Linked DNA regions of Homo sapiens: region 2 is linked to region 1. Evidence: fine-mapped expression QTL. A gene starts in region 1. The other region holds a variant in brackets. All regions are shown on one strand. Distances are from middle to middle. Region 1 holds the start of IGDCC3 (immunoglobulin superfamily DCC subclass member 3). Region 2 has its middle 19 kb from the start of RNU5B-1.

Evidence for each region. PIP is the estimated chance that this variant, and not a neighbour inherited with it, causes the effect.
Region 2: its variant is fine-mapped to the expression of IGDCC3 in cerebellum (GTEx, PIP above 0.99). The same link has a PIP of 0.9 or more in cerebellar hemisphere.

Annotation. Positions count from the first base shown.
Region 1 is chr15:65,376,058-65,380,437 of GRCh38, forward strand. IGDCC3 (immunoglobulin superfamily DCC subclass member 3) reads right to left here and starts at 1,945. Exons shown (of 14, transcript NM_004884.4): 1 at 1,629-1,945. The coding sequence starts at 1,731.
Region 2 is chr15:65,321,379-65,325,758 of GRCh38, forward strand. No RefSeq gene overlaps it. Among named protein-coding and RNA genes, the nearest start is that of RNU5B-1, 19 kb to the left of the region's middle. The variant T/C (reference allele first, on the strand shown) is at 1,840.

The sequences.
Region 1 (4,380 bases):
GTCCCAGTACCCGGGGTACAGACTAGGTTGTGGCCCCATTGCCCCTCTCCTCTGGCACTCTGGGTGTTGGTCCTTTTGCCTTTGTCATAGGGAGAGATGAAGAGTAGCAAACACCAACTATGGTTTCCCAAAACCAAGGAAGAGGGTGCTCCTAGAACCTTTACTTCCAGCCAACCTCTCTGCTCCTGCAGAAGAGAAATGAGCAGGAAAAGAAGGAGGCCAAAGAATAGATGGGGTTAAGGCCAATCAGAGAATCAGAAGCCCGGCTGGAGGGACAAGCACTCCAATCCCAGGCATGATGCCAAGTCACCAACTTCTCCAGCAAACAACTTACCAGACCAGTTACAACTCCACTCGAGGAGGAATGAACCCACCTGGTCTGAAATGGCAGTCACAGACCCCTCCTCACATTTCCAGATAACTAGCGATCCTGGAGCTGGCCCCTCCCCAGCAGACTAGGGCCCTCCCTGGCTGAGGGAGATGGGGAAATGGGTGGGGAGAAAGGAGGGGCGTTGGGGTTATAGGCATTCCCCGCCCAGCGCCCCCCGCGCCCCCCTCCCCCCGTCCCCGGCCCAGGAAGATGTAATGTTTTAAGACTTTTTAGGATCGCACTTATTCAAACCCCTGCGCATCCTCCCCATGTCGTGAGTTCACCCGTCTTAGCCCCGAATCCAACCCTGGTATAGCTGTCGGGAATAAAGTTTTTCCTTGATGCGGACGCGAGCTTCTACTTCTTGGGAGAGGAGTGGAGAGAGAATAGCCCAGATGAGTGTCTGTGGGGAACTTGAGGTGGGAGGGTTAAGGGACTAGATTTGCACTCTCCTCCCGGGAGATGGGACCATTGCAGCCACTAAAGGGAACAGAGTGGTGGTGACCGAGCTCCAGGCAGCAGAGCCGAGCTCCAGGCAGCAGAACCGGCGGACCGCGAGAGCCAGGGCAAGGTCTCCGCGTGTGCACACTTCGGGGAAGGGCAGGGGCACGTGAGCATCCCCGCGGCTCGCTCGCTCTCGCTTTCGGTGGCTTCTCCTCTCCTTCTTGGCTCACGGGCTCTGTCCCGGGTCGCTCCCTAGCCACGCGCCGCCCTCCAGGAATCTCCCTCGTCTTCTCCTGTCTCTCCCGCGCACTCCTCAGCCCAGTACCAGCTCCAAATGCAGGTCGTGCCATCTCCGCCCAGTGCAGCCGTCAGAGTCCCGGTCTCCGCTCCCCAGGCTGCTGTCCCCTGTCTTGGCTGCCTCGGGCTATGTCCACGGCCGGGCACCCAGCACCCCAGCTCGTCCGCCTCGGTCAGCGCTTAGCCTTGCGGTCTCCCCTGGCTCGTTTCCCTCGGTCTCCACGCCAGCCCGCCCCGCTTGCTCCCGCTTCGCTGCACTCCTTGCTCCTCAGTCTGGGCTCCGGGTCCTGCCCCAGTCTTCCTCCGGGGGGTTCCGTCCTCAACACGCCCCTAGGGCCCCCAGCAGTCCGGCCTTGGTACCCTCTCCCCGTCCGGATCCGCAGGGTCCCCCCCGCGCGGGGTCCGCCCTCAGGTCCGCGCCGCTCTCCCCGGGTCCGCCCCTCGCGCCCGCTCCCTCCCTGCTCGCCCTTCCCCTGGCTCCGTCCGCAACCGCCCGGTCCGGGGCGCTTTCACTCACCCTCGCTCGGCGCGGGCAGCAGCAGCAACAGCAGCGGCAGCAGGAGCCGGGGCCAGAGCGGGGCGGGCGGGCGGCGCGGAGACGCGGCGCGCTGCACAGCCATGGGGCTCTCGGTCAGCTCGGCTCGGCGACGCGCGGCTCCCGGGCCTCTCGCGGCTCACAGCGTCCCGCGGGGCCGGCGCCGGGGCCGGGGCTGGGGCTCCGGCCGGGGCCGAGCCCAGGCGGTGGGGGACTGGGGCCGCATGCCTGCTCAGCAGCGCGGGGGGCGCAGGGGGAGCGCCGCTTGCGCCATCTTGCACCCACCCGGGCGATCTGTCAGCCTCGCCCGGGGTGCGCGCTCCACACTCGCACCGCTCGCGGCCGCCCCGCCCTCCTCCCCAGCCCGCCGCCCCCCTCCTCTCTGCTCCCGGTCCCCTCCCCCAGCCCCCTCTCCCCGGAGGCCCGGTCTGGGGAACAAAAGAGCCGGCGAGCGCTTTAAGCGGCCGGACATTCCCGGCTGCGCGGCGGACGCGCCCCCTGCGCTTTGAACTGTGGCTGGAGCGGCCGGCGCCGTCCCGGGCTGCAGCCGGGTATCCCCTCCCCGCGGGCCAGCCGGGGACCTGGGGGGCTGAGGAAGTGGACACCAGCGGACTGGGGAGTGGGTCCGGGCTGCGGAAAGACACACAGCTGCGGGATTTGCTCTGACCCACTCTTTCTGCTGCGCCCTCCTCCAAGTCCATATTTTAGAGATAATTCTCTAAAAAGCTGCGTAAAGTTGTCAAAGATTCAGTTTTCCATGGATTTCTGGTCCTTCCACTCAAAGGATAGATCCTGTAGCTGCAAGCTTGGCTTCTCTGGACCGAGGAGTCCTGGCGCTCCGCTGGGGAGGATTGCCTGGAGAGAGCAGACCCAGCAGCAGGACAATGAGAGCTCTAAAGGGGCCTGGCTTCCGACCTGGGTTCTGCCTGCTGCCTAGCCCAGTCACTCTCACTGAGCTCATCTGAAAGATGAAAATAATCTTATCTCTCCTGTTCATCCCTAGAGACCTTTAAACCGCAGAGGTCCTGACAAATGACCTGGTAACTGGAAAAGCACATAGAAAGTTAAAATTCCCAGTAACGTTTCTGTGCCACAAAGAAGGCCCTCAATCGTTCATGTCAGAGAACATATAAGGAGACAACAGAGGTCCCACGTGAGAATGTTACAGAAGATAAGCATGTCTTTTAGCAGAGACATACCCATACTAGCCCTCAGAGATCTTGAATCTCAGCCACTCTCTATTAAATGGTCTTCTGTTGAGTCCAGCATGATGGACTAGTCCATCAAAATTATTGAGCAGCTACTAAGTTCTAGGAGCTAGAGAATTAAAGCTGGCAGGCTAGGCTTAGTGGCTCACACCTGTAATCCCAGCACTTTGGGAGGCCGAGGTGGGCAGATCACTTGAACCCAGGAGTTCAAAACCAGCCTGGGCAACATGGTGAAAACCTGTCTCTACAAAAAATACAAACATTAGCCAAGCATGGCGGTGCATGCCTGGAGTCCCACTGTATTCCAGCCTGGGCAACACAGACCCTGTCTCAATAAATAAATAAATAATAAAAGTTGGCCTAATGTAGCTATTTGCTCCTTTGGCACTGGACTGGGATGGCAGAGGAAAAACTAAGTCTTTCTTTTGATACCAACTCTGGAACTTTGGGACCATGTACGAAACTAACGGTGGCTCACGCCTGTAATCCCAGCACTTTGGGAAGCTGAGGCGGGTGGATTACCTGATGTCAGGAGTTCGAGACCAGCCTGACCAATGTGATGAAACACCATCTCTACTAAAAATACAAAAAAATTAGCCGGGCGTGGTGGCAGGCGCCTGTAATCCCAGCTACTCGGGAGGCTGAGGCAGGAAAATAGCTTGAACCCGGGAGGCAAACGTTGCAGTGAGCTGAGATTGCACCATTGCACTCCAGCCTGGGCGACAGAGCAAGACTCCGTCTCGAAACAAACAAACAAACAAAAAACTAACTTTGATACGGATAAGTAAGGAAGTACAGGCCTCCAGAAATCAGAGTGCCTGTAGATGGACAGGTTTACTAATGATGAGGTTGGCATAGCTCAGGACTGTTCACTCTAGGGCAGCTACTGGAAGATGAGCCTGAGAAGCAGGACATGAGGCATGTGAACAGCGGGAAGCAATGGAAAAATTCTAGGTGGAGGACTCCAATGTGCCAAAGCCCTATTGGATTTCATTGTGAGAAAGGGTGGGAGTGGTGGTCTACTGGCCTTAGGAAAGGGAGGGGAAGGGCCCTCCCTGGGCCTAAAATCCTGGAACTCCCTCCTGCAGGGCTTGAATTCTCAACAACCCCTTCTTGGCTTGTCCTGGACTCTGAAGAGGTCAAATTGGTCTCTTGAATTGCTGTCATTTTAAATTCATTTTGACAAGTGTTTAATTCTTCTTTATCACAACCCTTGGTCTGAGAGTGATATGCAAATAATGGCTATTCTGCCGAGTGCAAAATGTGCAGTATCTCTCTGTCTGATCTGTCAATTAACTCTGGGTCTGGCCCACCACTTTGGGGGTGGTCCTGAGCAAAGCAGCCTCTAGCTCTTGATTCCCTCCAATAGAAAGCATGTTCCGGGCTCTGTAAAGATCTTAGCAGACAGCAGCTGCCAACTGTGATGCCAAGATGTGTGTGGGGTGTGAGTGTGGAGTTTTGTGTGTGAGACTGTGTGCACATTTGCATTAACGGACAGACACAAGGGTGTTTGTGAAGGCAAAGTA
Region 2 (4,380 bases), 55 kb before region 1:
CCACCACCTTCTTAGCTCCAGAGGGTGCCATGCTTCTCACTAGAAGACAGGGAACAGTGACAGCTCGTTGCTCTCAATAGCAGGGCACTGGCTCTGAGCTCTGTACTAGCTCCCAGGTGGCAAAGGGCTGAAGGCATAGCCACCAGCTGAGTTGGAGAAGGTCCCCCATATAAGGTGACACCCCAGCTAGGCATGGAAGGAGACACCTCACTGTTCTCTGATCCTGCTGGGGCTCTGGTTCTCCTCACCCCAGCCTCAGCCCAATAACTGGGGACTTGCTGGCCACGGGAGAGATGACCTCAAGCTTCCAGGCACAAAACTCTCCAATTCTTGACCCAAGACACTACTATAGCAGCCGGGATTGAACCAAAGTATGCTTTCTTGGTAGCTTTGTGACAGTGTCCCCAGTACTCCCAGTTAGACACTCTGATTCCTTCAGTGGTTATGAAGAAAGTGCTGGCAGCACAAGTCCACATAATGGGGAGCCAGCTTTTGAGGCAATGAGACAAAATGCAGCATAGGGCATCCTGGGCCTCGGGGAAGGAAGCCCCTCCAGAGAGCGAGAGAGACATCTGCAGGAAGAGGCACCATGACGAGGAGAAGCTGTGGGGAGCAGAGCCTGGTCAGAGGGTGGCTATTCTGGAGTAATAGCCAGGGCCAACCCTGCCTTGTGGTGGTGGCACGTGGTGCACGGTGACCAAGGGGCCATCCACGTTTGTGGGAACTCAGTGTCCATCCCTCTTGAGTCCAAGGAGCCCTTCCCTTCTCTGCCAGCCAGGCTCCTCCTCGGCCTCCTCTCAGCCCCTTCTTCTCCCTGCTCCCTCTCCGTTCCAAGGTAGCTCCAGGGGGGCTCAGGGGAGCAACAAAGCCCTCAGATCAGTCCCCAAGTCCCCTCGTACCTTTTTTTTTAAGACAGGTTCTCCCTCTGTCACCCAAACTGGAGTGCAATGGCACGATCTTGGCTCACTATAGCCTCAACCTCCCAGGCTCAAGCGATCCTCACACCTCAGCCTCCTGAGTAGCTGGGATTACAGGCATGTGTCACCATGCCTGGCTAATTTTTAAATTTTGTGTGGAGACGATTTTGCCATGTCGTCCAGCTGGTCTCGAATTCCTGGCCTCAAGCTGTCTTCCTGCCTTGGCCTCCCAAAGTGCTGGGATTACACAGTGAGCCACTGTGCCCAGCCCTCTAATACCTCTTTGAGAGAGGACCATGGGTTTAGCTGTTCCCCTCCCTGACTCAAGCCTTAACCCAGAATTTAAGGCAGGCCCCCAGCCTTAGCTGCCCCCACTCACTCATTCCCTGTGTCCAGCCCCAGTGTCCCCATAGGAGTTCGGGGCACCCTCTGTCTCCTGCCGTCCCCAGCTGTGTCCCCACCAGCCTCATGCACAGTCCCAGGGCCATGGGGTAAAGCTTTCCTCCCCTCCCTGCCTCCTGGCTCATATTTGTTCCCCACCTGTCCCTCCGGAGTGGCCCTGTGGTCATTTTATTTATTTATTTATCTATTTATTTGAGATGGAGTCTCACTCTATAGTCCAAGCTGGAGTGCAGTGGCATGATCTCGGCTCACTGCTACTTTCACCTCCTGGGCTCAAGTAATTCTCCCCGGCGGGTGAGCCACTGCACCCGGCCCCTGTGGTCATTTTAAAACAGTCCATACATTCTTTGACTCTCCATTGAAAAGAAGACTTTAATTCCCCTTGAATTCCCTGAATGTGGCTTGCCTTAGCGACTTGTTCTAAAGAGCTGACTATAGCAGAAGTGATGCTGTGTCACTTGGGCCGGCGTAGAAATGATGTTGCAGTTTCCACCTGGCTCTCTCTCTCAGGACGCTTGTC[T/C]TTGGAACCCAGCCACTATGCTGTGAGGAAGCCCAGGCCACACGGAGAGGCCATGTGGAGGTGCTGGGCTCACAGCCAGCATCAGCCACCAGACGCGGGAGGGAGGGAGCCTTCAGGGGATCCCAGCCCCCAGGCTTCAAGCTGCCCACGCTGATGCAGAGTGGAGCAGAGACAGCTGCCCCTGAGCCCTGCCCAGACTGCATATTTGTAAGCCAAATAAATGTGATGTGAAACCACCAAGGTTTGACGGCACTCCAGCCTGGGCAACACAGTGAGACCCTGTCTCTTAAAAAAAAAAAAAAAAAAAAAAAAAAAAGGCCGGGCATGGTGGCTCATACCTGTAATCCCAGCACCTTGGGAGGCCGAGGCAGGTGGATCACGAGGTCAGGAGATCGAGACCATCCTGGCTAAAACAGTGAGACCCCGTCTCTACTAAAAATACAAAAAATTATCTGGGCATGGTGGTGCTTATAATCCCAGCTACTCAGAAGGCTGAGGCAGGAGAATCGCTTGAACCTGGGAGGGGGAGGTTGCAGTGAGTGGAGATCACGCCACTGCACTCCAACCTGGGTGACAGGGTGAGACTTGGTCTCAAAAAAAAAAAAAAAAAATTGCCAGGCGTGATGTCTTACGCCTGTAATCCCAGCATTTTGGAAGGCCGAGGCAGGCAGATTATCTGAGCTCAGAAGTTCCAGACCAGCCTGGGCAACATGGCAAAAGCGCATCTCTACTAAAAATACAAAAAATTAGCCTGGTGTGGTGGTGTGGGCCTGTAATCCCAGTTACTCGGGAGGCTGAGGCACAAGAATTGCTTGAACCCGGGAGGCAGAGGTTGCAATGAGCAGAAATCATGCCATTGCACTACAGCCTGGGTGACAGAGAAAGACTCCGTCTCAAAGAAAAAAAAAAGGTTTAGGGTTGTTTGTTACAGAGCCTTAGATGATTGGAACAGGTTGCAGCCTTGGTTGTGGCAGATTTCTGCCCAAAGATAGTTTGTGGGGGACAGTGAGGTTTGACGGGGTTCTTCAGCCTGAGGCCTCTGGGCTATTTGAGATCTCAGGACCTGGATTCCAGTCAGGCCACTCAGCTTTGACACCTATTTCTGCTAACCTTCCTCACTGGAACCCTGCTCTGTCATCTACCCAAGCCTGGCTGAGACTTGTGATGGTTAGGGCAGGCCCTGCCTACATTTGTTTGTGTTTTGTATACAATTTGCATATATCTGCATGATCATATTTTGGTGGATTTTTATTTTTTTTTTTGACAGAGTCTTGCTCTGTTGCCCAGGCTGAAGTGAAGTGTCGTGATCTCGGCTCACTGCAACCTCCACCTCCCAGGTTTAAGCAACTCTCCCACCTCAGCCTCCCGAGTAGCTGGGATTACAGGCAGGCACCACCATGCCTGGGTAATTTTTGTATTTTTTAATAGAGATGGGGTTTCCCCATGTTGGCCAGGCTGGTCTTGAACTCCTGACCTCAGGTGATCACCCGCCTCGGCCTCCCAAAATGCTGGGATTATACGCGTGAGCCACTGCACCCAGCCTTATTTTCGTGGGGTTTTTTGTTGTTGTTGTTTTGTTTTTTTTTGAGACAGAGTCTCGTTCTGTCACCCAGGCTGGAGTGCAGTGGCATGATCTCAGCTCACTGCAGCCTCTGCCTCCCCGATTCAAGCAGTTCTACTGCCTCAGCCTCCCGAGTAGCTGGGATTGCAGGCATGCACTACCACGCCTGGCTAATTTTTGTAGTTTTAGTAGAGACGGGGGTTTCTCCATGTTGGCCAGGCTGGTCTCGAATTCCTGACCTCAGGTGATCTGCCCACCTTGACCTCCCAAGGTGCTGGAATTATAGGCGTGAGCCACTGCGCCTGGCCCATTTTGTGGTTTCTAAACATTTCCAGACACCTCCCATCTGGGACTCTTAGAAGGGACAGGGGCACTGGATGTTACTTGTCTACTCCCCCAACCCCACAGGGTTGACTTGAACAATCACCTCCCCAGGCTGCCCTTGGATGGCTGAAGTTGTTAAAACATCTATGTGTGCAAAGTGCCGTGTAAAGAAAGAGTTTTATATCTATATTTGAGATAGTTCTTTCCTGGGATAATCAGGGAAAGTCAGCAACCTCCCTGGAGATTCAGGATAGGCGCCCTATAGGCCTCAGCGCTCTCTTGCCTGGTTCAGCATCCCTAGCACCGTCACTGGTCCTGACCTGACCTCGGGCCCAGCTATCCACAGGCCTCTTCTGGAAGTGCCTGGCCAGGTACCTTCAGATGTTCTTTTAGGATCACAATCCTGCTTTCAAGTGAAATTTCATCAAGAATCCAACATGGGCTCGGCACAGTGGCTCACGCCTGTAATCCCAGCACTTTGGGAGGCTGAGGGAGGTGGATCACCTGAGGTCAGGAGTTTGAGACCAGCCTGGCCAACAAGGCAAAACCCTGTCTCTACCAAAACTACAAAACATTAGCCAGGTATGGTGGTTGGTGCCTATAATCCCAGCTACTCGGGAGGCTGAGGCAGGAGAATTGCTTGAACTTGGGAGGCG